4 linked regions of the Homo sapiens genome follow. The protein of the gene in region 4 interacts with the protein of the main gene of each other region in a pairwise test. Each region holds a gene or a part of one and is shown on either strand. Other genes may lie near its edges.

Region 1 (7,561 bases), on a different chromosome or scaffold from region 4:
AGACACACAGAAAAGGTATTGGTGGAATGCCTGTGGATAGTTTAGTCTAACACAAACTAAGTTTGTTCTAAGACTCTCGTTTACAAGTTACTATCAACTAAGCCCTGCTGCTTTTGCCATCTCAAGTGAATCAGTGCCCTTCATAAGCCTGCTCCAGGTTGTCCTGTCATCCTTTCCAGCCTTGCCAAGAAGCAATCTAGTGTTGTGGAAGAAACACTGAATTCAGAGTTAGAGCCAGTATTCTCATTAAATGACTGTAGATAGATACCTTTATCTCTCTGAGGCTTGATTTCCTTAACTGTAAAATGAAGACAAAACTAACACCTTATAGGGTTGGACTGAAGATGATATATGTAAAATTATGTTGTAAAATGTAAGATCCCAGGAAAATGCAAAGGATTCTCATGATTGTAATAATGGTCATACCTAAAAGTATTGATTGATTCTCTGAAAGGCAATGGATTTTGCCTCCTGTTTTTGTGGTTTAATAACTTCTTTTTGGGGGGTTGACAGTGACTAACGTATACAAAGAGACCAATGTGAAAATCACTTTCAAACTTACTCCAGACGTTGGGTTGAAAAGGAGTAAGAATGGATGGTGTCTTACAATCAAACTTAAAGCACAGGGCTGCGCACAGTGGCTCACGCCTGTAATCCCAGCAGTTTGGGAGGCTGAGGCGGGTGGATCACTTGAGGTCAGGAGTTCAAGACCAGCCTGACCAACATGGTAAAACCCGGTCTCCACTAAAAATATAAAAATTAGCTGGGCCTGCTGGCGCATGCCTGTAATCCCAGCTACGAGGAAGGCTGAGGCAGGAAAATCACTTGAATCCGGGAGGCGGAGGTTGCAGTGAGCCAAGATTGCATCACTGCACTCCAGCCTGGATGAGAGAGGGAGACTCCATCTCAAAATAAAAAAATTAAAAAAAAAAACTTAAAACACAGAATCTGAGCACCTATTGAAGAGGCTTTGACATTTAACCTAATCCTAACCCAATGCAAGAATCCTCCCAATAGAAATTTCTGCTTCCACATTCCAGGATAGGGAGCTCATCACTTTGTAATTCAGCCTGTCCGTTACTAGACTGCTCTGATGGTTAGGAAAATCTTACTTGGTTCTGAAGTCATCTGCAGCCAGCTTGGCATTGTCGATCTGCACCACCAGCCTGGCATTCTCAGACTTGCTGCACAGGATCTGGGGATAGGATTAATCATGAAATGGGTTATACTAAGAAATGCCTTGTGCCTTAAAGTGAAATGCTATTTTCTTTCAGCCACATTCCTCCCAAATAGCTTTGAGTCCTTTCAGATTTTCAGCTCTGAGATAAAAGGAGGATTTGATCATAAAACTGATCATTTCAAAACCAGGACAACCAATGTGAATTCATCATGAATTCTATTCTTATCTGCTTCTGGCTTCCTGCAATAATTAGGTTACTGGGTATCCAACCCTTCGGTTGGGTGACCAACCATCCCAGTTAACTTAGGACTGAGGGGTTTCTGGGATGCTAAAATGGGAAAAATCCCAGGCAAGCCAGAACAACTTGGTTATCCAACACATTCCACCTGCTAACTTCTCTCCACTCTCCCCTCATATTGCCCTTGTTCATGCCTTTGCAAAAAGCTTCTTGCTGTACCCAGAATGCCCTCACCCACTAGCAAGACCCCTTGTGTAACCCACATACTTAATCAATAACACTTCTTATGACCTTTGTGTGATCATTTTGTTTCCACATCTATCTCCCCTGTTAGACTGTGAGCTCCTGAAGGAAGGAGACTGTCTTACTCAGTACATTATCCCCCACCCCAGCACTGTGCCTAACACTCTCCAACTCTGGGTAAATAAATGAATGATATTCAAATAGCACAACCCCTTTCTGGCATCTAATTTTCCAGATCTACAGAACAGTGGGCAGTCAATTCCCTCCCAGAATCAAGGGCTTGTACAATTGGATATAAACTCCCACTCATCCTTCAAACCCCACTCAGACATTGCCTCTTCTGGGATCCCTCCCAAACCTACACCAGGTATTCAGTCCCAATTCTCTGTGGACTCTTTACTTATATCTACTTCTCTTCCAGAACAGATGGCCCCATATTGTCATCTGTACACATGGCTGCTCTAGAGGATGGTCCATGTGTCTGTAGATATTGCTGGAGTCAACAGCTCTCTTGTGTTGCCATAAATGCTATATTTTGCTACAGCTTTGAAAGGCTTTAAATATTTGAAGATTTACTTAGGAAATTCTTAGCATAGAAAATAATTCAGGTGCATACTTTTTGAAAATGCGGTAATGCTCTGAAAACAAAACCAGGGTATCATAATCAAACCAAAAAATCAGATATTCTGGTTTGGAGTAAGACGCCATATAAGATTGCTATGACTGATTTTGGTCTAATGCTTCACTCTAACACCAGCCTGCATCCTTCCTTTGTGGCTCTACAACAGATTTTCTAAGACTACTTGATGTCATACCTAAGCCAGTGAATCTATGTCTTTATCATTCTCAGCATTACTGTGAACAGACTTAGATCCATTCACAGTTTAGTATGTCAAATATAGATAAGTAGTTCATTAAGCTGGCAGTGTGGTGCCCACCTCCTCACCTTCTGCTGGAGCTCCTCAATGGTCTTGAAGTAGGACTGGTAGCTGGGGCACAGCAAGGGCTCCTGCTGCTGAGACCGCTCCCGGATGAGGTTCTCCAGCTCCGCGTTGTCCCGCTCCAGCTGACGCACCTTCTCCAGGTAGCTGGCCAGGCGGTCGTTCAGGAACTGCATAGTCTCCTTCTCGCTGCCATTGAAGGAGCCCTCGCAGAACCAGTTGCAGTTGCTCACATTGGCAGGGATGTTGCAGGCCCCGGGCAGGGTGTAGCCGTGGCAGCTGGGGGGCACACAGGGCCGGGAGGAGCAGCTGGTGCGGCAGCTCAGGCTGGGCAGGCAGAAGTTGTAGGGCATGGTGCAGGGAGGCAGTGGAGCTCTGGAAGTCAGTTTCAAAACCTGATTCCTTTTCCCTGGGATAAGCCTTGGTCCTTTCCAGGGCTTTATATTCTGTTAGCAGTGGGTGTGGCAACCATGTCAAGTATTCCTCCTTTTTACCTCCTTTGCTGATTTTTCCATTTGTTATTTAGCCACTTCACCTGAGTCCTATACCTCATTAAATGTTTTACTCTGGCTTCTTGCTAAGTCAGGACTCCTCACAAAACATGCTGATTGGTTAAGTAAGAGCTTCATGGTTTGGCTTCAAAGTGACCAACCTTGCCTGTAGCAGTGCTTATCCATGGGACATTGAGCTAGAGTGACAGCTGGGCCCTGTCCCCAGAGTAGGGGGCACATATGTGCCTCTTTCTCCTAAATGAGGAAAGGCTTGTGTCTCATCCAGTTCATATTCAATTAAGACTCTGTGAGAAAAGCCATGTAAGGAAACCCGTCTAGAAACTAGACTATGTGATAGGGAATCCTGGAAGCTGAAATGAGAAAGGACTTACAAGGCCATTGGTTCAAGGCCCATTTGCAGTTCCATCCAGGCAGATGGAGGCAACTCTACCCTCTTCCTATGGGGCTGCAGGAAGCCACCCACCTCCGTTTCTACTAGTATTCAGTGTTCACAGAACATTAAGAAACCTAAATTTTGGGAGCACCTACTCTGCATGAAGCACTGTGCTCCATGCCTGTGCACAGCGTGACTCTGTCATTGGTGATGGGTCCTGCTTGCTGAGCCTCCACTGTGCACCAGGCACAGTGCCAGGCACCTCATATGCACCAGCTCCTTCAGTCCTCTCAAAATGCTGCAAGGGTTTGTAGATAAGGACCCTAAGCCTCTGAGAGGTCTCCCAAGGTCACAGAGCTCCTACATGATGGAGCCAGGGTTCAAATACAGATCTCTCTAATTCCAATGTCCACACTCTGTCATATTACATGTCTCTCTCTTCCAATCTTTTCAGTACTGAGATGCAATAATGCAAAAAATACAGATTGAGCTCCATTGAGCTCAATCAGTGCTGACAATATCCTAAATTAGAATGGGCCAAAAAATAACAAGCCTGTTTTTTACTTATTAAAGAACCAAAAGTCACTTCTATGCTGAAGGAAGGAAGTTTACTAAGTGAAAATGCCTCATACCCACTAGAAGCTTGAAAAAAAAAAAAAAAGGAAACCCTTGGTTGATCTGAGGGAGAAATACCCAAGCCTAGCTCTCCAAAGGATATGACCCTGAAAATCCACCACTATGTCATGTGCATGAAGTGGCATTTTATGACCATTGGCACATTTTGGCAAGCAGATGCTCTACTCTCATGCATTCCAGATGGAACTATGAAATATGAGGATTTTATGTTTAATCTATCAGTGCTCAAATTCTGAAAGATACTCCTCCAAGTTGTTCCTTTTGGAAGCTACATATTAAGTCTTGCCATACAAGAATTCTTTTCCTACAGGTGACCTGCCATTCCTCAGATCACCCTTCCTTCAAACTTGCCTTCACAGCTTGGGACACATTCTTTTGGTTATCCTCATTGAAGGCCAATCTTCATCTTCTATGGGTGTGTTTATTTTTGGAACCAGCCAGAAGTCATTTGAAACCACACCTAGTGCATAGGGTGAATAACCAAGCTGCATAGCATCTTTAATGGGTCAGAAACAGGTTGTGACTACAAAATAATAATGTGTGTTTTCTTGGGTGACTCTGGAAGTCATTTCCAAGGAGAAGCTTCAAATATGCTTTTATAAAGGACAGCAGCTTTGGGGCAAACATGTGGTCTTCCAGGGTGAATGCATTGAAGGTACTGATATCCTCCCCTACAATCACAATCCACAACTTTCTGCCCCTCCTGCCTGAATCTCTAATTTTTTTTTTTTTTTTTTTTTTTTGGAGACAGAGTCTCACTCTATTGCTCTATTGCCCAGGCTACAGTGCAGTGGTGCAATCTCAGCTCACTGCAACCTCCGCCTCCCAGGTTCAAGCTATTCTCCTGTCTCACCCTCCCTAGTAGCTGGGATTAGAGGCGTGCACCACCTGTAATGTGCCTGGCTAATTTTTGTATTTTTAGTAGAGACAGGGTTTCACTATGTTGGGCAGGCTGGTCTCAATCTCCTGACCTCAGGTGATCCACCCGCCTCAGCCTCCCAAAGTGCTGGGATTACAGGAGTGAGCCACTGCACCCGGCCTGAATCTCTACCTTTAAAATGATTCCACTATCAGTGAGATGTGGCATGGGCATATTGGTTTAAAATCAGTACCAAACCATTAAAGTCCTATTGGATGAGATCAAATAACATAAAGCAAATAGCTGAATTCATTAGCTTTTCTCTAATTACCTTGTGTTCTTCTCTCCTTCTTCTACGTCCCAAGCTTCAAAAGGAAAAATCTGACAATGGCACTTTTTAAAGAAAAGGGAAGGAATAGTGTGTCACAGACTGGTAAATATGTCCACAGGGATCCCTATAACCATTGCTGTAGCTTCTACCTCAGTCACAGTGGAATAATCCAGAGATAAGTATCCTTGTGTCTTTAAAAGTGGAGGTCAGAGTTTAGAAAACACAACTATTCCCACATCTTGAGTAGAAGTAACTATAATTTCTGCACAGCTACTTGGCCATTATGTACTAATAGTTGGAAGAACTTGGGTCTATGGAGAAAAGAGCCAAGTTTCAATTAGCTTCTCACAAAGTCTGGAAGGCAATTGCTTTTTACTTACTCCACTTGCTGTGTACTGTGAATTCTTATCTTTACATGGGTGATGCTATTGTCTCTGTTCAATGGCCCTTCATTAAACATGACAAGTAAGTCAAATCCTAACAAACCGAAAGGTTTTATACATGCCCATGTAATAGCGGCAGATGCTATGGTTGAGGCTTCTGGTCTTAAGATGTGAGCAAATTGCAGTTGAGGTTTAAGGATGCTATTTATTATGGAAGCCCGGGCTATTTCCATAGAAGAGATCACATGCCAACCCACCAGCGATGCTTAACCACGGAGTGGACATAGGATGGGGCTTCTGCTGAGGCCACCTTCCTCATTGTGGGACTTCAAAGGCATTAGGAGGCCTCCCTCCTTCTTCCCAAAGCCATCTTCTCCAATGTCCAGGCTCTGGTGCTTGAAATTGTCACCGTGAGAAATGTAAAATTTATTCTTTTAGAAATACGAAGTTACATTGGGCTACTTGAAAATTAATTATATTTTAATATGTACAAATGAGAAGGAGAGGCCAGGAGCAGTATCACTACATGCACACAGAGCAAGAAGATGGACTTTTTGCCAAAGAGGGATCCCAGAGGGGAATTAGAAAAGCAGAAAGACTGTCCAATAACAACCCCAGCCCATGGTTTTGGGCCAGCCTGTTAGAGCTTCCTAGAAGAGCAGAAGATAGGGCTTCCACAAACTGTTCCATAAAGGCAACTGTTGTCAATTTATCAATCCTCCAGCCTCAGGACATTGAGAGGAGAAATTGAAGGGGTAATTCAGGAAATAAGCCAACAAGTTTGGCCCTGTTCAATGGGGCTTCTGATAAGGGACAAGCAGGAGAGGGGCTGAAGAATGAGCCAGGTCAGCAGTAAGCTACGCTGAGCAAAAACAGATACAAACACCTCAAAATGGAACTCAGGAGGTAGTTCTACAAATCCTCTCCAGAGCCACCATGTTTCTCTTACACTCAGTCTTGGACTCCCAATGGGAATGGAGTCTTGGAGTCTTCAGGGACCAAGCCAAGTCAGAAAAATACAAAGTTCATCTATGCTATGTGTTTTTTTTTAACTTTTATTTTAAGTTGAGGGATACAAGTGCAGGTTTGTTACATAGATAAACTTGTGTCATGGGAGTTTGTTTTACAGATTATTTCATCACCCAGGTATTAAGCCTAGTACCCATTAGTTATTTTTCCTGATCCTCTCCCTCCTCCCACCCTCTACCCTCCAGAAGGCTCCAGTGTGTGTTGTTCCCCTCTATATGTCCACGTGTTCTCATCATTCAGCTCCCACGAGATCTATGCTATGTTTTTGACTACTCTAGACTATCAACTCAGTCTAGAATAGACAAGAGCATGACACAATCCAGGACGATGTAATTTAATGGTGCTAGTCTTCCTGAAAAAGCTGGATCCAGGGCCCACTCAGAGATGGAATGAAAACCTATATATGTGTCCTGCTCTGCAGATCAAGGGAGAGGGCAGATGCTAAAACCTTTTGACAGTACACAGAAGATAAAGCAAAGTCAGCTGAGTACAAATGTGTTGTGTTGAACTTTTGCATTACACTCACTATCACGTTGGTGATTTGAGACAGACATGAAAAAAACATGGAAATACAGCTTCTTCCCTCAGCCTCCCACAGACTCTGTTCTCTTTATAATCACCAGGAGTCTCCCCATTGCTTTAACCAGTAGATTTGTCTGATTCTCACCATCCTTGCCCTGGATGCTGTTGACAACTCTTTCATTAGAGCTCCAACTTCTTTTGACTTCTGTGTCCTTTAAGGTGCTTCTCCACTTCCCTCTCAAACTGCTTGCAACCAGATGTCATCTCTGTCCTCAAGATCTGGCAAAACCAAGGCTGAACCTCACATCAGGGAC
Region 2 (7,603 bases), on a different chromosome or scaffold from region 4:
GGTTCATCATGATTTGCTCTGTGACATATAAATATGAATGGTGAAATTGAAGATGATGGGTATTTTTTAAAACATTCTTAGTACTAAAGGGCTGTCAAGCTTCAGGTTGGCAAATGCTTACATTCTCTCACTTTCATTCAAAACCTATTTCTCAGCCCTGAATAATTAGGGAAGGACAATGATGCATTTATTTGCAAAACACATGAGGATAAACTCATTTTACTTAAGTCTGAAATGACACTGATATATTTCTATTCCTATACTTTTTACTACTGTCATCAGTACTATAATTATCTAAAACATCCTATACACTTAAAAGATAATGTAATTCTCTATAGATATCTCCAAACATAACATATATACCTTCAACTTTATATTATAAAAATAACTATATAACCTTTGAAAATTTGAAGTAATTCCATTTAATTTGTAACTAAGCATAACTTATATAAATGTAATAAATACATATTTGTGTTACAACTTTCTAAACAGCAATGTAGAAATTAAACTTTTAGATTCCAATCCCAGTTTTCCTAACAGTTCAGTAGGTGATTTTGACTAAAATTTACTTATACCAATTTTATGTATAGTAAGATAATATTTATTATAATGCAGAAACGATGCAATATAGAGTCTGCAGATTAAAATTGGATGAAACCCTTCAAAGATTTGATTTAAAATATCCTAATGTGTACAAGATAAAGGCTAAAGAAAGTATTCCCTGAACAGGTAAAATATCACTCATTTTTTTAATGAAGAACAAAAAAAGACCAAAAACTAAGATCTAGTGTTTCAAAATATGAAATCAATATATGTACATAAAATCAGTTGACATACTAGTTGATAGTGAAAACTGGAATTAATCAGCCAGCTTTTTCACTTTGATTTTCAGTTCTAGTTTATCTATTTAAAAATTATATTTTAATTACATGTACACAATGTTCACATTTCATCTTGCTATTTTGATACTGTTGTAGTCGGCATTGTCTTTGTCTTCAAAATATTAAATCATCCTAGACATAAGTATGATGTTCATTTGGGGTACAAGTTTTTTCTTTGATCTTAACTTATATATATTTATGTATACATTTATTCATAAAAGAAACATATATTTCCACACACTCAATTTAAATGGAAAAAATGGAGTAATCATTCGAAACAGCTCAATAATATATCTGAAATCAAAACACTTTTGCCCCAGTTATCCTGCTGCAAATAGTTGTATCCTAAATATCCCAGATATTTAACTCAATTACTTAACTGCTCTAGTATATTCTTAACTAGTAACCACGACATCAACTTCAATAGTTAAACTCCAACTTTAGATGAATATTTGGCTTATATTTCAAATATTTTGAAAGGGTTCAAGCATATAATCACAAAAAACTACTATATGTAAATTGTAATTTAATATTTAAATAAATAATAAAAATAAAATTTACTAGTTCTTTATCTTGTATTTTTCTAAGGCTCCTTAGATCATACTTTACACAAAATTAGGTTATGTAACTAATCAGTAAATATATAGTCCTTTTTATTAGTTTGTTTTTTACTTGGAATTTGTGAGGAAATTTATGCTCCTATTTCTTCCCACTACGTAGGAAAGTTTAATATAATGCTTTTACTTTAGAGCCGTCTTTCTTTTAGATAGATATTACAAAATGTTCACTCTATGTGGAAATCCTACTGATAAATTCTTGGTTTTAAAAGATTTTCCACAAAATCCAATTTGTAATATTTTATTATTATAAATCATATATGATAGATGGTATAAAAATAGTTGAACTTCTATTTAAGTTAGTATAGATATCTTAACCGATTTTTTCTATGTCTTCTACCTCAAACACAGTTCATCTTATGGAGTATACACTATTTTTAATTTGCCCTCTTTTGAATAAAGGCAGTGTTAAGATCCTTCCTCATTTTAAGTTGTTTTTAAGAATCATATTTTATAATCTCAAAAACTATCAAACAACAAATATGTAAGGACTGAACTGATTGCATATTAAGCCAGTAAGTCATAAAAACGTTCATTAATGCTTACATTTGAAGAAAATATGGTTTTAGTCAATAAGGAACAACGTAATGTGGTTTTCATTTGTATTGCAAATCCTTCACCAGTACTTGTATAAGTCTCTATACTAAAAATTCAGTGAAAAAAATTCTGGGTTAAATTCTAATTGGTTTTTTAAACTTTCCCAAAAAGTTTGAGGAAGAAGTAAATTGTGAAAATCAAAGATCCTGAAGACGCTGGCTGTTAAAACGTCAACAGGTGCTTCAGTGTACCCTGCGGGCGAGTCTCACCACTGCAGCGTGAGCTGTGTCTGCTTCTTTTTATCCTTCACAATCTGCGTGATGGTTTTCTTCTGAGACAGGTATTGATCCGCTGCTTTGGTTTTGCTGTCGTGGTTGTCGGCGTCCTCTTCTTCAGAGGAAAAGTTACCATTGTTTAAGTGCATTTCTGATTGCCAGTTGAAGGGATGATAAAGAAAAATAGAATATAAAATCAACTAAGTCGCCTTTAAGTGTACCTTAACTTCAAAGGAGTAGCCTACTGGGGTGGGGGCGGAGGGGAGGAAAGGGGGGCTATGCAAAATGTCAGGTCTCTACTTGACATTTTACTGAGGAAATACAAAGATTTGGACAGAACATTCTATATCTGCCTTATGTTTGTTCGGGATGCATTATTATTATTGGGTGCCCTTCTTAGAATACGTCCCCGTCCCCTTCCCAGCTCCGGATGCGGCAGAGCACTCACCTGATTTCACTGCCCCCGGCAGCTCCGGGTCTTCGCCTTTCTCCCCGCCGCCCTGCTCGCCCCCGGGCTGCCCTTCGGCCGCCAGGTACACTGTTTCTTCCGGATAGACTAGCAAGCCCTTGCCCAGGAGCTGCACACAGCAGTCTTCCTGGATCCCCGGGGACAGTTGGGGCGCAGGCTGCGCCTGCAGGAAGGTGTCTTCCAGCTCCGGGACCTTGGCCATCCTCCTGGCCGCCGGACACCTCCGCGCGCGCCGCTCGGCCGGTTCCCCAGCGGAGCCCCAGCCCGGGGCGGGGCGGGGCGGGGCTGGGACCCGGGGCCGCAGGGGCGGGGAAGGAGGCCGCAGGCTCCGGGGTGCCCTGGCTCAGCGCAGAAAGGACGCCGCGCACAGGTACAGCCCAGGCCGCCCGGGAGCCGCGGTGGGCCGCGGTGGGACTGCGTTTCTCCACCTGTCTGCGGTCCCGGCAGATGCTCCCGCGAAACTCACTTTCTCACCTGCGCCTGTCACGCCCTGGGCGCCCACAGCTTCCCCCTCCTTCCCGTTCTCTCAACCTGCGCTGGCCGGAGGACCGTTTTCACACTCAGAGCTCCCAGAAAGATCCCGGGAAGGCTCACTGTCTTCTGCAGGGAAAGTGCAGCTGTAACTGGCCCCATCCCTACTTTCAGGTACACTATTGGGGCACCTGGCCGCGCGGCGTGGACTCTGCACGCCTGGGACAGGGAAAAAGTACACCGGAGTACCGCTCAGTCTTTGCACAGCAGGGACCGGGCTTTTTATTCTGGGAACCTTCCGAGGGATTGGCGAGGGCTCTTCTCAGCATTTGAGGGAAGATCCCATCTCGTCACACACTGCTTTGCTCGAGGGTGCACAGTGGCCCGCACTCCTGGGTCTCCCAGCCCTGGAGGATCTGGCCTCAACCCCGAGAAAAGATTCTTTCTCTCCCATTTACCATTATTTTGTAATTTAAACGCGTCCCTGACGATTACTCATCTCATACCTAGCAGTACGGCAACGGACGTTTGCTTAAGTGAAAAATGAAATTGCGACCATCTTCCAACCCAAAATGGCAATCTCATGGGGGCAAACTATAATCTGTGCTCTCTTTAGACGGGAGCGGTCAGTGGAGACTTGGGATTGGTGTTACCTGACTGCCAGATCATCTTCCTTTCCTTCCACCTTCTGTTCTTTTGACAAATACGCCCAGTGTCTTTATATGTCCAGTGCTCTCCAACAAAAGCAAGGATTCTGCTTTGGATCACATTGCCTCATCACAACCTACAGCATGTCATCTTCTCTTGCAGCATTAGAGAGAGAAATCAGCCTTCGACTTTGACAATATTAAACTACATTACATTGAAATTTAACATAGAACAAACAAAATGGGATCCAAGGTGGTGGGTGGCTGAAGGGTGAATTATGGGAAGGAGCGATACAGTCTAAGTAATACAGCAAAAGCAGCTAAAATTATGAGTGGATTTGAATCTCCCCATTTTTAGTACCACTTGTTGGGAAAGGCAGCAACTCTTTGTCAAAGGTTTTCACCTTATCTGGTACCTCCAGCAGCTAGATCCAGGATGGGGCTACCCACCCCTCCACACTCCTAAAGTGGGTATACCCCTCCAGTGCTTCAGGACAACTTTGCCAGTTTTCTCTACCCAGTCCTCCGAAAGCCTCAGAGCCTGCTCAGACCAGAGGGCTTAGCTGTATGTACAGTACTAAAGTTTAGAATGTTGCCTCTTTACAGAGATACCCTCAGATTCATTCTGTAAAGGGAGTCCCAGTGATTAACTGTGTCTACTTATATGAAATGATAAGAAGAAAAATGTTCAGGAAAATTACTGGAATTTCTTTTTTAAAATACTAACCATATGATAATGTGTTTGTGTGTGTGTGTGTGTGTGTGTGTGTGTAAGTCATACAGACACTACGTGAAAATCTGGCAATTATCCAATTGAACAGATCATTGGAAACAAAAACCACGATCAGTTAAGGCCCTAAGTGAACTTTTTGCCTTAATTTTAAGTAAATCTGTTTGCCTAACAAAATAATGTGAAAGTTATTTGTGCTTCTATTCAAAAATAGGAAGTCTAAATAGGCCTATAGCAAGTAAATAAATTTAATCAGTAATAAAAAAACTTCCAACATAAAGAAAACACATGATGAGATAGCTTCATGAGTGATTTATACCAAACGTTTAAAGAAGAATAAATGCCAGTTCTTCTCAAACGTATGGTATGTGGTGAAAGCAGAGGAGGGGAAAAGCTGTCAATATTCTAAATTTGCTATTTGTAATTATTATAACTAATCTGAGCTCATGAGACTAGTGTTTTAGAAAAGCAGCTCTAGGCAGGAAAATAGGTAAAAATGGAGAATGATCTTTTAAAATAGTGATTTGTAAGATGTTTATTTTTTATATACTCTTTAAGAAATTTTTGTAAGCTATCAACTGTCTCCCAGGGGGAAAAATGCCCATGAATACGCTAATGTAAAAATTTCTGCTTACAGTTTAACAGACTGTAAGTAAAAAAACCTGAAAAAGTTTATTCTGTTTTAAGGAAAAAAATAAAAACACATGATGTCTGAAAGAAGATTCTTTGAAGTTCCCAAATTACAGGGTCTTCATGACTGGAGGCACAAGAGTAAAGGGGAAAGGAAAAGGAATTTGGAGTCAGGTACATTTGCACTCATTCTCTTTGTGCTTCTGGGCATTTAACCTTTCTGTGCCTGTTTCCTTCTCTCAAAATTGGAAAAAAATAGTACATATCTATAGTAGATTTTGTGGGTGTTCTGCTCAGATCCCCTTGGATTTCTTCCACATTTTCTGAGCACCCCTCACCCTGTTTTTGCCTCCTTTGGTTTCCAATACCAGCCCCAAGACCACCACCTGAGAGCTCCTGGGACTTTTCTTTGGAGGAACTGCCCTTAGCTACCAGACCACCATTGCCCATAGGCAGATAGAGCCTAGGTGCCCCTGAGTAGCACTTAGCCAATGACTGATGGTTGAGAACCTTGATCTCATGTTGGATAAATCTGAGGTACAACTTACAACCAGAGCTCCTCTATGGGATCGGACTGAAACCATCTCCCACTAGACCATTCCTAAAATCCCATCTGTGTTGGCTTCTTGCCCTCCTCTGTCCTGCTACCCCTACTCCCTTTCCTGTTTCTCCTGGCAACACTTTCTTTAAATTGCTTTTGTAGAAAAATACTTGACTCAAGTCCTGCTGACATAAGACATCACATTATAGAGTTGATATAAGCATCAAATGAAACATTATAAAGAAGAAACTAGTCCAGTGCCTGAAACAGAGTAAGCCTTCAATAAAACATATCTAATCTTTTTATTCTGAAACTTTAGATCTCTTTTAGTTCACATAAGCAAGGAAAAAAAATTTCTCTCTTTCACTGCAGAAGAATTTTGAGGAACATCTCCTTGCCTAGATTATTTCTGGGCATAGTATTATCTGGAGTGATCATATACTATGAAATTTTCTTCTGTGAAAGTTCATGTCTCTCCTAATTTGTTTTTCTGTTCACCAAAATTATTTTATAAATACGGCAAGTACTTTGCTTTCTGTTAATGAATTTCATTTTGTTTCTTTCAAATAAAAGTAAAGTGAGGTTATGAACCTAACAGCAGAGCCCCAAAATACACGAAGCAATAAATACCATTTTTTGATAAAGGTACTAACACCATTCAGTGGAAAAAGATATATAGCCTTTTCAATTATATAACCACATCTAAAAGAATGAGTTTGGAACCCTACTTCACACTATATACAAAAATAAAAATGGTTCAAAGACCTAAATATAAGAGCTAAAACTGTACAACTCTTGGACTAAAACCTTGCCTTAAGTCTTTATCACCTGGGATTAGGCAAAGGTTTATTGAATGTGATACAAAAAGTACAAGCAATAAAAGAAAAAAGGTAGATAAACTGAACTCCACCAAAATGCGTGCATCAAAAAACACTATCAAGAAAATGAAAAGACAACACACAATGGACAAATATTTTAAAATCGTCCATCAGAATATATAAAGAACTCTTACAACTCAACAATCAAAAGACAATAGCCCAATTTAAAAACATGTAAAAGATTTAAATAGACATTTCTCCAGATAAGATATATAAATGGCTAATAAGCACATAAAATGCTCAATATCATTTTCATTAGGAAAATGCAAATCAAAACCACAATAAGGTATCACTTCACACCCACTATAATTTTTTAAAAATGATAATGAGGTTGTGGAGAAATTGGGACCTTCATACATTGCTGGTAGGAATGTAAAATGATACCACCACTGTGGAAAATAGTTTCACAGTTCCTCAAAAAGTTAAACATATGATCCAGTAATTCTGTTCCTAGGTAGATACTCAAGAGAATTGAAACATAAATTCATACACAAAGCTTGTGTAAAAATGTTTATAGCAACATTATGCATAAAAGTTAAAAAGTCAACACAACCAAAATGTTCATCAGCTGTTCTATACATAAACGCAATGTGGTATATCCATACAAGGGAATATTATGCAGTCATTAAAAAACAGTGAAGCTGAGGCTGACGGATTGCTTGAGCTCAGGAGTTTGGGACCAGCCCGGGCAACATGTCAAAACCCCATCTCTACTGAAAAATACAAAAATTAGCTGGGCATGGTGGTGCATGTCTGTAATCCCAGCTACTCAGGTGGCTGAGCTGAGATCGCAGCCACTGCACTCTAGCCTGGGCAACAGAGCAAGATTTTGTTTCAAAAAAATAAAACGAAACAAAACAGTGAAGCAATGATACATGCTTCAATATGTATGAACCTTAAAAACATCATGTCAAGTGAAATAAGCCA
Region 3 (7,474 bases), on a different chromosome or scaffold from region 4:
TATAATCTATATTTTACAGATGGAGAAACCAAGCACAGAGAGACAGGGTGTCCTGTCCCAGGTCATCCAACAAGTACATTTGAAAATCAAAGTCAAGAAGTCTGTCTGTCTCCAAGTCAGGGAGTGAGACCCTGGGTGGGTAGGATTTTGGAAATGGCTTTGATCCAGTCCTATCCAGGAACCAGGCTCTGCCGGCTCACTGGCATCAAGCTTCCATTCTTGCTTTTTGCTTTGCGAGCTCTTGGGTGTCTCATGGGAAACTCCACGTTAGACCTTTCCATGGACATCACACTGTTTTTCATCACATTGATATCATCAAGGTGGGCAGGTTATACTCTCGCTAACATCAAAGGCCGTCTGTGTTCTAAGGGATTTCACAGGTGCAGAGAACAAAATGACCACAGTGTAGTGGGAAGAGCCTTGGCTTTGGAGTTAGGATAGTAGAGTGAGAGCCTTACTCACTTGGCATCACTCTAGCAGCGTGAACACAGGCACCTCTGTGCTTTGGTTTTCCCATTTGCAAACTGGAGATTATTAAATCGACCTCAAAGGGTTGTGGTGAGGATTATAGATGATGCTGGGGCCTCAGGACATGCCTAGAACTGAGGGCATTGCTGGTTTGGGGAGGACGGGTGTCCCTGCCAAACTGGAGATGGGTCTCAGAACTGAGTCCTGGCTCCATCTTCAGGCCGCTCCCTCGCTGCTTCAGGGTCGCTGCTTCAGGGTCACTGCCTGGGGCTGGCAGATCTTCACCTGGGGTTCCCTGGTGGAGATCAAAGCTCTATTTTAGGACAACTCACTCAATGATGTTGTTCAGGCCAGGAATCACTGACGTCACTTTTCCAAGCAGTCCCCCAAGGAGGCCACCAGAAGTACCTCCTCCAGGCTTCAGGATGTCCAGGAGCGGAAGGTTTTCCAGAATGCCCAACAGGCCCCCAGACAGCAGGCCATTGCTGAGGGCTGGAAATGGGTGTAAGGGTCTCTGGGGGTCAGATCTGACAATTCCAGATCCTCAGGCCCCCTCCCCCATCCAGCCCTGTCCCTCCCCACTTTGCAGGGTTGGACACACACACACACACACACACACACACACACACACACACACACACACACACATGCACACATACACCCCTGAAAACTCACCATTTGTCAAGCTTCCTGCAAGACCTGTGGGACTCAAGGGCAGGGCTGGATTCACATTCAAGGGCAGGGTCTGGTCCAGGGGCACGGGCAGGCCTCCAAACTGGGCCATGGTCTGGGCTAACAGCCCGTAGAAGACAATGAGGCCCCCAGTTTGAAACATCTTTGCTCTTAGTATCTGTGGCCAGAATGACAAGTCCAACATGGCATGGGTATCAGAGAGGAATTTATCCACCACCTGCCCTGACACCTGGGGGGTGGGGTTGTTTGCTCCCCAGAACACCAGGGGGTCACTAGTAATAGCTAATACTGCTGAACAATTTCTCTTTGCCAGGCAACAGGCTGACCACTTTACACAATTTCATCTTCATCACAACCCTAAGACATGGGCACCTGTTACCTGCATTGCACAGGTGAGGACCACTGATCAGGGGCCTAAAAAGGAGACAGCCCCACTCCACCACATTCCAAAGAAGAGGGTTTTTTTCCTTCTTGCCAAGAATCCCAGCCTCACCTCACTCCATCTTGCCCACAGTTCACTTGTCTGATTTTCCAGTAGGAGAAACCAAGGCTCACAGAGGTCAAGTGAGTTTGCAGTTGGGAGTTTCAAATATACTCCCATCCCTTCTTGAAACCCACTTGTGTACTACCGAGTGTGGGTAACTTTCCCCAAGGTCACAAGTACACGGTGGACAGAGGATTAGAAGCTAGAGCCAGGTGAACCCTCGGTTAAATTAAGTAACCATCAGATTTATTCTCCAATCGGGCTTGCTTCAATGGTTTGAATCATTGCTGCTCTTCAGACAAAGCAAATGAGAAGGGTTAAACGTGCAAGTGCTGAAGAATTGAACTGTTTTAGATCATCCCTGTTCAGTCCTTTGGCCTGAGCTCAGGCCATGATGGTTGGTGGATGCCCTTGAAAGTCACACAATACAGGGGTCGCATGGCCACAGCCACCATCTCATGTAGACCTTTGTTGGGGAATTCCTGGGGCCATCAAAGTCTTCATTGCATGAGAAGAACCAGGAGACCAAAGAGGGGTAGTGACTTTCCCAAGGTCATACAATAAATTGATGGCAGAGCTGTGGTTGAAGGCAGGTCTCCCAACCCTCCCCTCACCCAACACACAAACATGCATTCTATCATTTTGACACCTTTCTCTTCTCCTTCAAGCTGCCCTGGATGGAATTCCGGTCAACCCCTGAGGTTTGGCTTGCAGACCTCTCACAGGTCTATTTGGCAGCCAGCAGAGTTGTCCAGAGCCAGCACTAGTACCTACAATTTGGAGACAACTGGTGACTTTGTGCAAAATTCCATCTATTGGCTGACTCAGCTAAAGCTCCATCCTTGTGGTGGAAGGCTGGAAATGAAAGGTCTTTGGTCCAAAGAGCCAGTTGTGCCCTTCTTAGGGAGGTAACTTTGACCACAGCCTCTGAATCTCTTTTGGGCAACAGACCCTTTATGAATCCAATGGAAGCTAAAGATCCTAGTCTCAGAAAAAATGCATCAAAATGTATAAAATTGGGTGAAGAATTTTAGGAGGTTTTTGGATCATCTGTATCCACATTGGTAACCTCAAGCTAAAACTTATGCCTTAGAGGCTTTCATTTACGGCATTAATAGTGCCCATTTCTATATCAATGTTACTGGTCTCTTAGGACAGCAGAGCAAATGGCCATCCCCACATCCCTGACATTGGCCAGGTCTGTTTCTCTTGCACAGCCCCCAGTGAGTGATCAAGATCACTCACTGCCCCACAGGGCAGGAGCCTGAGATCCCTGCCGTTAAGGGTAGCAGAGGGGCCACAGAATGGATGGCTCTTACCTGGACTTCTTAGAGGTCTCAGCAGCTGTCCTGGTCTCCTCTCTCTCCCCCACTCACTTCTGCCGAGGAGTCAGCCTCTTTTATAGTATGGGGACGAGGAAGCATGTGTTGGGTGATGGGTTTCTAGATAATTGAGAATTCTGCAATCTGACAGTGTCTTTCAGGGCTCTCCAAAGTAAATAATTGCCAATCACATTAGCAGGTGAGACAGTTAAGCTATTTGGTCAACAAGATAAACAGAGAAAAACCTGAGATGGGATGTTACTCAAGACTTTATGGTTTCCTGAGCGGAGCCAAGGTTGGGGACCCACGCTCCCAAGGTAGCTTGGAGCATTGAAAGGAGCAGCCAGACAGAGCCCAGGAAGGGACCTCAGTCTCATCTCTTGGCCCCTTTCCTCTCCTGCTCTAATTTTTTTGCTCCAGTTGGAGGATTCTTTCTCCTAAAATGTCAAAAGAGTCACACTGCATCCTACATCTGGGGTGCGTCTCCATTCCAGGGCAAGGGTCTCCTGTTTTCAGAGCCCCTATTGCACGTCAGGAGCTCTCTGTCCTCACAAGAACCCTGAGAGGGAGAGGTGACTCCTCCTCTTTTATAGAGGAGGAAACTGAGATCCAGTGGGGACAAGTGCTGAAAGACCCAGAGAGGATGCAGCAGAGTTAGAATGCAACTGACTGGAGAATGAAAACAACAAAAACAACGCCAACAGCAGACACTGGCCGAGCTCCTGCTGTATGCCTGGCCTGCCATGGTGTTCACAGGCAGCATCTCACAAAATCCTCACAACCCTGTACTCCTATTCTATAAGGGGGAAACTGAGGCTGAGTGTGAGGCAAGTTGTCCAGAGATGCAGTGCTTGCCTGGGGTGAGACATCCACATTCAGGTCCTTTCCCCGAATCACTGCACTGAGAGATGAAGGTGCCTCCCAACACTTGCTGGCCATTTTGATTTCCCCACCTGTGAACTTTACACTTTCATGCGTCCCTTTTTATTTTTTAAATTTTCACTTAATTTTTATTTTATTTTATTTTTTGAGACAGTCTTACTCTGTCGCCCAGGCTAGAGTGCAGTGGTGTGATCTCAGCTCATGACAACCTCCACCTCCCGGGTTCAAGTGATTCTCCTGCCTCAGCCTCCTGAGCAGCTGGGACTACAGGCGAGCGCCACCATGCCTGGCAAAGTTTTTGTATTTTTAGTAGAGATGGGGTTTCACCATGTTGGCCAGGCTGTCCTCGAACTCCTGACCTCAGGTGATCCACCTATCTCAGCCTCCCAAAGTGCTGGGATTACAGGCGTGAGCCACAGTGCCCCGCCGCTTCTCTTTTAGGTCCTGGAAAAGTCTTTCCAGGTTCCCAGGCCTGAGGGATCCTTTGGCATCCTGGTCTCTATCCTACCCTTTCTTCTACCTTTCCCTAAATGGAGTAATCAGGCATTTATTTATCCCCACCACTGGGGCCCTTGGAGTCTGTTCAGCAGATGAAAAAGTGAAGACACAGGAAGGCCAAGGTCCTGGACCAGTGAGCGCAGCTCTTACCCTGCAAAACCTAACACCTTATAAGCAAAAGTGGAGAGAGAAGGAATAAATGTGCTTTTATTAAGCACTGACTGCATGCCAGGTGCTCTCCATATTTGAACCTCATCTTCTTCAGGAGTGGTTGGTATTGTTGTCTCTCATACATTGGATGAGGAGGCTGAGGATCAGAAAGGGTGACTGCTTCCTGGGGACACACAGCGAGTGAGTGTTGGAGTCAATTGACCCTGCCACCCTCTGTGTCTGTCTGAGTCCCTGCTAATCAGTGGGCCACACTGCCTCCCTCACACTAGGCCTTCACTGGCCTGCTCCACTGCTCTCCAGAGTCTGGGTGGTGCCCCCAAGGGTTTGGGGCCATGGCTTTGAACTTAATTATCCATTCAAGGTACTTGCTGGACTCTGCCCACATCTTGTACATGGCAATCATCCTCACAGTGGTCCCATCGTATAACTCTTGTGGGTTGGGTCAGGTTGCTACTATCCTTGTGGGGAAACTGAGGCAGATAAGGCAAGGAATTAGTAGAGTTTGTGCAGCCAGTTAATGAAAGCTTACACCCTCTGGTTTGAGGCCGGGAGGCTGTGTCTGTATTGCAGCAGAAAGTGGGTGAATTTGGGCTCAAACAGCCCTGGTTCAAATCCTACGACCCTGGGCAAGTCAGTCCAGTTCCCTGAACTTCATTCAGTTTCCTCACCTGTAAAATGGGGAGCATAAAATCTGCCTCACAGGGCTATGGGGAGATGATGTCTGGGGAGCTGGTATGAATCACAGTTCATAAACTCAGGCGTCCACACATCTTTCTGATTTATCTATACTTTACCATTTCAAATGCCATTTTGCTCAGGAACAGAAATGTCCCAATTTCCCCCTGGGGTTTCATGTCTGTGCTAGGGGCTTTGTTTGTACCAAGGAGGCTGCCTGTCCCTATTTTTGGCTGGCAATATAGGAGACAGCCATGTGCCATCTGCCCCTAGATTGCAGAGACACTGTACTTCCCTCCTGGTGAAAGGTCCCTTTGGATTTAGCATTTACTTTCAACTCGTTTGTAAGACACAGAATTGTTCTGCTGTTCGCCAGTTCCTTGGGCCTGATACAGGACTGTGAGGGGCTGCCCAAGCCCTCCTGCCTGGATCCACCTAGACCCTCCCTTTACCCTTCTCTCCCTGGGGTCTCATGCCCTCTTCTGGCTCTGGGAGGGAGTGTGGACACAGACGCCCTCTGTCCCTGGATCCCATACATGTGCCTGGGATTCTGTTCCCTTCATCCCATGCTCAGGTCTGCCTGGGAGCAGCAAGGGACGGAGGCACCATCAGAACCCACCAGAACTATGCTCCTTCCAGTTCTCCTGGACCCTCACACTTCACCAACCCAACATAGGGCATTTTCTAGTTTTGTGGGCAGGAAGATTTGCTTCAACTTCATTGTGTGTATGCTGTTCTCAGACTCTCCTATGCCCTGAGTTTAACAAGTCAAAAGCCAAGACTATAAAAACAAAAAAACTTACAGTAAAATTGACTTCTTTTAGTGGTATGGTCCTTTGAGTCTTACCACATGTATAGTCAGCCACCATCATAATCAGGGTAAAGAACAGTTCCATCCCCCCAAAGGCACTCTCATGGGTCCCTTTACAGCCACACCCTGCCTTCATCTGCTGGCAACCACCTGTTTGTTCTCTGTCACTACCACTTTATCAAAAACCCAGGCTCTTGAAAGTCAAGAGCCTTGTTTCTGCTTCTGTTGAAACTGCCCTTCCTTGTGGCCACAGGGACTGCATGCTCCCTGCCCTGAACAGGGGAAAGGTCTCAGGGCACCAGGAAACAAGTGGAAGGACACACCACGAACATTTCAAGAGGTTTTCCCCACTCTGGTGATGTCAATACCCTCTCCATGTGTTTCTCAGAAACTGTAGGTGGTGCCTTTCCTTCCTGCTTCTCAGGTTGCAATTGTGTTTGGGAGCCTTTGCTCAGGTTGTTTTGTCAATCAAGAGATCCATTTCTGGCCGGGTGTGGTGGCTCACATCTGTAATCTCAGCACTTTGGGAGGCCCAGGCAGGTGGATCATTTGAGGTCGGGAGTTCAAGACCAGCCTGGCCAACATGGTGAAATCCCATCTCTACTAAAAATACAAAAATTAGCTGGGCATTAGTGGTGCGCACCTGTAAACCCAGCTACTTGGTAGGCTGAGGCAGGAGAACTGCTTGAGCCTGGGAGGCGGAGGTTGCAGTGAGCCAAGATCATGCCGCTGCATTCCAGTCTGGGTGACAGAGTGAGGCTCTGTCTCAAAAAAAAAAAAAAAAAAAAGATCCATTTCTAAAGGGCAGAATTGGTTTGATTTTTCAAAGGGCTCTGACCTATGCAAGGTCTGTTCTCCAGAATGTGAGAATGGGATGCAGGATCTCCTCCCCAGGAGAAAGGTCAGCGTGGGGACTGAGTTGCAGAGGGTCTTCAGATGGCCTTGGAAGCTCCAGAGCATTCCCAGAGAGCCAGAAACCCCAACTTAGATGAAAAAAATATATATTCTCAAGTAGGGTTTGCTTCAGGCAAGCTCCCCTTGCTTTTGAGATTAATCTTTGCACTTGCTTTTAAAGTGCAAAAAAAAAAATACTACTACTAATGATAACCTTTTGTGAGACACTAGAGCTTTATGCCACCTGTAACAAGCCTGTGGGGAAACTGAGGTTCAAGGAGGGCTGTGACCTGCACAGGGTCATCTCAGCTGGGAAGAGGTGAAGTCAGACTGTCATCTGGGGCTTCAGTGCTCTTACTTCAAGTGCAAGTTTGCATCACAGTTTTCAGTTCAGAAAGCACCTGCCCATCTTCCCTGGAGCCCTCCCGTTGGTGGAGCGCTTCCCCTGCCAACCCCCTTTCTTTTTTTTCTTTTGAGACAGTTTCGTTCTGTCGCCTAGGCTGAACTGTAGTGGCGCCATCACAGTTCACTGCAGCCTCGACCTCCCGAGCTCAGGTGATCCTCTCACTTCAGCCT
Region 4 (5,792 bases):
GAGATCACCAAAGACACCTTGAGAACTTGCCATCAAGTACAGCAGTCAAAAAAATACAATATTTTTAAACTTTATGGAGTGGAATGGTCTTTTAAAAAACTAGTTTTTTTTTTTTTAACTAATGTATAAATCCGATCTAGAAAACCAGAGATGGGCCACTGTGATTGAAGGTGGGCAAGGGTAGCCTGAGACTCCTCCAGAGCTCCTGGAGCACAGCTTGAATGAAAGCCACTTATCCACTAGGTTGGCACTTACTGGGAGAAGTGCAAGGGATGCCAAGATGTCTAAGGCTTTGACTTTGGGTTGGAAAGAACCGGGTGAGATTCTAGGGGATTCACTCCTGGGTTAGTCAGCCTCTGGCAGGGCTCAGGATTCCAGGTCTGCCACATGTATTGGGTGCTGCTGGCAGGTCTATGTGAGCTGAGCATTACTTGCCCCACCCTGGTTCCAGCCAGGCCCCAATAGCTTGACCTCACAATATAAAAAATATTTTCACTATCTTATGTTTCATGAATTTAATTCTATTAAGGTAAGGCTTACTACGTTCAAAACTCCAACCCCCTCCCTTTTTTCTTGCCCTTTAACAAGGCACCATCCGGTTTTCTTTACTAACAAAATGTCAGTGTTCAAGTTCAGTCTTGGTGCAAGATCGATGGCAGATGTCAGGGGCTGGCCGGGATGGCTTACATTGATATCATCATACGTAGGTCCTTCTCATAGATGTCAGGGATGTTACCTACCGGCGAGTTGATCATGCGCACGGTGTTGTTATTAAACAGCTTGAATTCGTAATTGATGAGCTGTTCCCAAAAGCCGTTGTTGGGCCGGATGATGGGGCGGCGCGACTTGGTCCATGTATGGGCGTCCAGCAGCGACATGGAGTGGTATTTCATGAGGTACGCAAGGCACAGTGAGGCGGAACGGCTCACTCCAGCCATGCAGTGCAGCAGCGTACGGCCCTGCCTCATATCGATGGTGTGGATAAGATCAGCAATGGGGTCAAAAAAGTCGTAGAGACGCGAGTCACGAGCATCGGTAACAGGCACCTTTATGTACTGAATGCCCTCGAAGAATACGTTGACCACTTCCACCGAGGCATTGACAATGGCGGTGATGCGATTGCTGGACAGAAGGAGTTTGTCGTTGGCGGCCACACCATTGCTGAGAAACAAGCTTCTGGTTATTTGGGAGAAGCTGTAGATGGAGGGCTGCTGGACACCCTGAGATGATGAAAAGGAGGACGCGGATGCTGTCATCAAGGCGGCTGGTCCGAGGTCTCTCTACGCTGGTTCGGGACACAACACTTACCAAGCTAGTTCAGGATAGCAGCCGCGCCGCCAAGTCTCAGGCTAGGTGTTGGAGAAAGAGGACCAGCTATCGGCCACCACCCTCTTTCTGTCTCCTCTCACCACTCCCATCTGGGCGTCACAATCCCGGACAGATAGCCCTGCGGCTCCGGTTTCCATGGCAATGGCCGCTTGCCGCAAGGAGGACAGGGCCTCTAAGCAGGGTCTTCAGAGACACCCCAGTCTCTTTTCTTTTTATCTTTCTTCATAGTCATTTATTTTCCAAGGCCTAATTCTTATCTTTCTTGACTTTTAAAAATGTTCTGTTACAAGATATCTATTTTATGTTTCAATTATTGGACCACGTTAAACAAGATCTATGAATACTTCTATTTCATCAGTGTTGCAGAACAGGGCTTACACTTTCCCTGCAAAATAGCAATATCACATTCTAAGTTGGGGAACAGCATTTGGCTCATGTGATATGCTAATCTCTATAAAACTGGAGCGAGATATGGGATTTGGCTGGGCTTGGTGGACTGGCCTGATACTTCTTTGTTGATTGTAACCATAAAATTATTTTCCTGCTTACAAACACATCAGGGCTGGTTGTAAGAGAGCATTGCTAACTGATATATAGCCCTTTATCTTGAAGTTGGCCTGTGGTGGACAGTTGTGACTAATTTAGCTGTGTCATAGTCCATTTGTACATACAGCTCAAATGACTTACCGCATGAGTCTATTTTATTACCTGAAACAACAGTTCAAATTATTTTGTTTACTTTCTTCAAAAAAAAATGCCTACATGCTTTGTGAACTACAAATCACTTTGACCACTACCGATGCTGTCTTCCCAGTAATATTAAACATTCTGAAACAAGTTAATGCTACATGGTAATTGGGCCAAAAATTGAGACAGTTTTGCTCTGTCACCCAGGCTGGAGAGTCCCAGGCCTCTGCTTCCTGGGTTCAAGTGATTCTTGTGCCTTAGCCTACCGAGTAGCTGGGATTACAGGAACGCACCACCACACCTGGCGAATTCTTGTATTTTTAGTAGAGACAGGATTTCACCATGTTGGCCAGGCTGGTCTCAAACTCCTGACCTCAGGTGATCCACCGGCCTCGGCCTCCCAAAGTGCTGGGATTACATGCACGAGCCACAGCACTCAGCCCAAAAATTAATTTCTAAAATGTAACCTGACATTTGCATTTCCTTCCAGCTAAGATTTTTATAGAATTTGGCTGAAAATTGAAAAGAACTATAGCCTAAAACTAACAAATTGTTTCACAGAGTAGCCAATTGACTCACATACTTTGCTCTCATTCCATCATCATTTTGGTATGTGTTCAAAGGTGTGCTGTGATTACGAACAAAGATGAAATAGATACCAGGCTGCTTATGATGGTCAAGGAAATGATAACCTCAAAACACAACACACGTTTCTTTTCTCAGTTGTCATAATCAAATTATTTTGCATTACTTAAATTGTCAGTCCCCACAAAGCTATCTGGAAGAAAATAGAACACGAATACTAAATAAATATGAAAACTGTTTGTTGGGGGCAGCTCAGCTGGGCTAACGGAGAAGCTTTGTAATCTATGTAGTAATGTGGAGGCCCTAAACTAGTATTGGAGTCTACTTATTTCATAAGTATACACTTCTTAAACTTTAAAACTAAGTACAATTAACAAAATAATTTCAGACACTATTTTCTTTTCTTTTTTTTATTTTTATTTTTTTTGAGACGGAGTTTTGCTCTTGTTGCCCAGGCTGGAGTGCAGTGGCGCGATCTTGGTTCACCACAACCTCCGCCTCCCAGGTTCAAGCCATTCTCCTGCCTCAGTCTCATGAGTAGCTGGGATTACAGGCTCGCGCCACCATGCCCAGCTAATTTTTTGTATTTTTAGTAGAGACGAGGTTTCACCATGTTGGCCAGGCTGGTCTCAAACTCTCGACCTCAGGTGACCCACCCACCTCGGCCTCCCAAAGTGCAGGGATAACAGGCATGAGCCACCGCGCCCGGCCTCAGACACTATTTTCAAAGACAAGCATGACCCGTGTTAAATAGATTCATTTATTTATTCTTCATATTCTGTGACACCTGTTAGTCTGAGGGATGTTGGATGTTTTAAAATTCCGCTATGGAGCTTTTCCTGGATAGATAACGTTTTCTCCCCTTGAGTTTGGAAGCAGGTCACTTTCAGATCCCACTTGTCTCTACTTTTCCTTTTTTTTTTTTTTTTTTTTAACACACTGATGGAGGCAATTTTCCTTGTTATTTAGTGAAGAAAATGTGCAATGGACTTGCCCAATAACACACTCTCTTTCCACCGCTGGGAAAACACCCTGGATGTTAAGAACTAGTTAATGTTCAAATTTCTCAATTCAGTAGTCAAAGCCCTTTCTAATCTAAGCCTGCCTTTCAAATCTCATTCATTCATTTATTCATCAGATTTTTATTAAGAATCTATAGTGTGTTAGGCATTTTCACCTATATAAACCCTCAGTTCTGACCAAACAAAGCAAACGCTTTTGGTAAATACAAAATGTACATTCCTGTTTCCTTACCTTTGCTCATGCCATTCCTCTCTCTTGAGAAGCCTGACTCCTCTCTGCTTCCTGAATTCTATCCGAGCTTCAAGACTCAGCTTGATTAATTTAAAAACGGGATCAACTGAGCATCCAATCTGTGTCAGGTATGGTCCTAGCAGTGTAGATCCATCACAATACAGGGCCTGATTTCCAAGAGCTTATACTTTGGTCAGAGAGATAGATAACCTTGGAAGAGTCCAGAAGAGAGGGTATGATTCATTGTTTTAGGTGAGTGTTTGGGGGCCAGGGGCAGTAGGTGTATGTCATGGAAGGCTTAATAGAAAACGTGACTGGGAAAAGTCTTTTTGTTTTTATTACTTATTATTTATAGTGTCCAAGTTTGTGTTTTGAAAAATATCAAACCTACATAAAAGCTGCAAGAACAGAACAATGAGCATCTGTTTACCCTTCACCTATAGTTCTATTGTTAACACTTCACCACATTTGCTTTATCTATTTTGATATACAGACACACATATTTATTTATTTGCTTGTTTCTTTTTGCTGAAACATTGAGAGTTTCTTGTAGATATAGCAACAATTTAGCCCTTCAGCACATATCTCCAAAGAACAAGTACATGCTCTTCCATAACCACAGTACAATGACCATACTCAGGAAATTTAACATTGGCCCCATATTATCATCTAACACGTAATCCATATTCAAATTTCACCAAGTCTTTTAATAATATTATTTATAGCTGTTTTTTTCTTTTGATCCAAGATTGAATCAAGGATCACACATTGCATTTAGCCGTCATGCTTCTTTAGCATCTTTAAATTTGGAGCTGTTGCTGAGTCTTTTATTTTGTTTCGGTCTTGCTGGACATTGGCATTTTTAAGAGTTCAGGCTAGTTTTGGCCGGGTGCGGTGGCTCACGCCTGTAATCCCAGCACTTTGGGAGGCCGAAGTGGGCAGAACACAAGGTCAGGAGATTGAGACCATCCTGGCTAACACGGTGAAACCCCGTCTCTACTAAAAATACAAAAAAATTAGCCGGGCGTGGTGGCGGGCGCTTATAGTCCCAGCTACTCGGGAGGCTGAGGCAGGAGAATGGTGTGAACCCAGGAGGCGGAGCTTGCAGTGAGCCGAGATTGCACCACTGCACTCCAGCCTGTGCGACTGAGCAAGGCTCCGTCTCCAAAAAAAAAAAAAAAAAAAAAAAAAAGAGTTCAGGCCAGTTTTGCAGAACATCTTTCAAGATGTATTTGTTTGACTGTTCCCTCGGGATTAGATTCAGGTGAAATTTTTTTTGCAAGAAGACCACCAGAGTGTGTGATTCTCAGTACATCGTACCAGGGGCATATGTTATTTGTCTGTTCCATTAATGGTGATGAGAATTTTTTTCTTTTCTCTTTCAATAGCTTTAGGAGTACTAGCGGTTTGGGGTTACATGGATGAATTGTATAATGGCAAAGTCTGAAATTTTAGTGCACCCATCACCTGAGTAGTGTACATTCTTCCCAATATGTAGTTTTTAAATCTCTCCCCACTCTCATCCTCGCCCATTATGAGTCTCCAATGTCCATTATACTAGTCTACATGCCTTTGTGTACCCATAGCTTAGCTCCGACTTATGAGAACATGCGACCAGGCATGGTGGCTCACGCCTGTAATCCCAGCATTTTGGGAGGCCAAGGCAGGTGGATCACCTGAGGTCAGGAGTTCGAGACCAGCTTGGCCAACATGGCGAAACCCCGTCTCTACTAAAAATACAAAACTTAGCTGGGCATGGTGGCGCACGCTTGTACTCCCAGCTACTTGGGAGACTGAGGTGGAGGATTGCTTGAACATGGGAGGATCGCTTGAACCCAGGAGGCGGAGGTTGCAGTGAGCCAAGATCGTGCCACTGCACTCCACCCTGGGCAAGAGAGTGAGACTCTGTCTCAGAAAAAAAAAAAAAAAAAAGTGAG

Evidence for each region.
Region 1: the proteins of DUSP21 (region 4) and KRT33B interact in binary tests that used the Homo sapiens proteins (3 or more experiments, as listed by UniProt).
Region 2: the proteins of DUSP21 (region 4) and RFX6 interact in binary tests that used the Homo sapiens proteins (3 or more experiments, as listed by UniProt).
Region 3: the proteins of DUSP21 (region 4) and BPIFA1 interact in binary tests that used the Homo sapiens proteins (3 or more experiments, as listed by UniProt).

Annotation. Positions count from the first base shown.
Region 1 is NC_000017.11:41,366,796-41,374,356, forward strand, and holds the start of KRT33B (keratin, type I cuticular Ha3-II), read right to left. Parts: upstream 3,019-7,561; 5' UTR 2,956-3,018; coding exon 2,608-2,955; intron 1,196-2,607; coding exon 1,113-1,195; intron 1-1,112.
Region 2 is NC_000006.12:116,872,654-116,880,256, reverse strand, and holds the start of RFX6 (DNA-binding protein RFX6), read right to left. Parts: upstream 3,016-7,603; 5' UTR 2,982-3,015; coding exon 2,759-2,981; intron 2,462-2,758; coding exon 2,305-2,461; intron 2,295-2,304; exon of another isoform or gene 2,047-2,294; coding exon of another isoform or gene 2,045-2,046; intron 1-2,044. UniProt on the Homo sapiens protein: Transcription factor required to direct islet cell differentiation during endocrine pancreas development. Specifically required for the differentiation of 4 of the 5 islet cell types and for the production of insulin.
Region 3 is NC_000020.11:33,231,541-33,239,014, reverse strand, and holds the start of BPIFA1 (BPI fold-containing family A member 1 precursor), read right to left. Parts: upstream 3,020-7,474; 5' UTR 2,965-3,019; intron 1,319-2,964; 5' UTR 1,304-1,318; coding exon 1,144-1,303; intron 961-1,143; coding exon 801-960; intron 1-800.
Region 4 is NC_000023.11:44,839,597-44,845,388, reverse strand, and holds DUSP21 (dual specificity protein phosphatase 21), read right to left. Parts: upstream 1,369-5,792; 5' UTR 1,257-1,368; coding exon 684-1,256; 3' UTR 501-683; downstream 1-500. UniProt on the Homo sapiens protein: Protein phosphatase component of the sperm flagellar doublet microtubules. May act as a regulator of sperm motility by mediating dephosphorylation of sperm doublet microtubule proteins.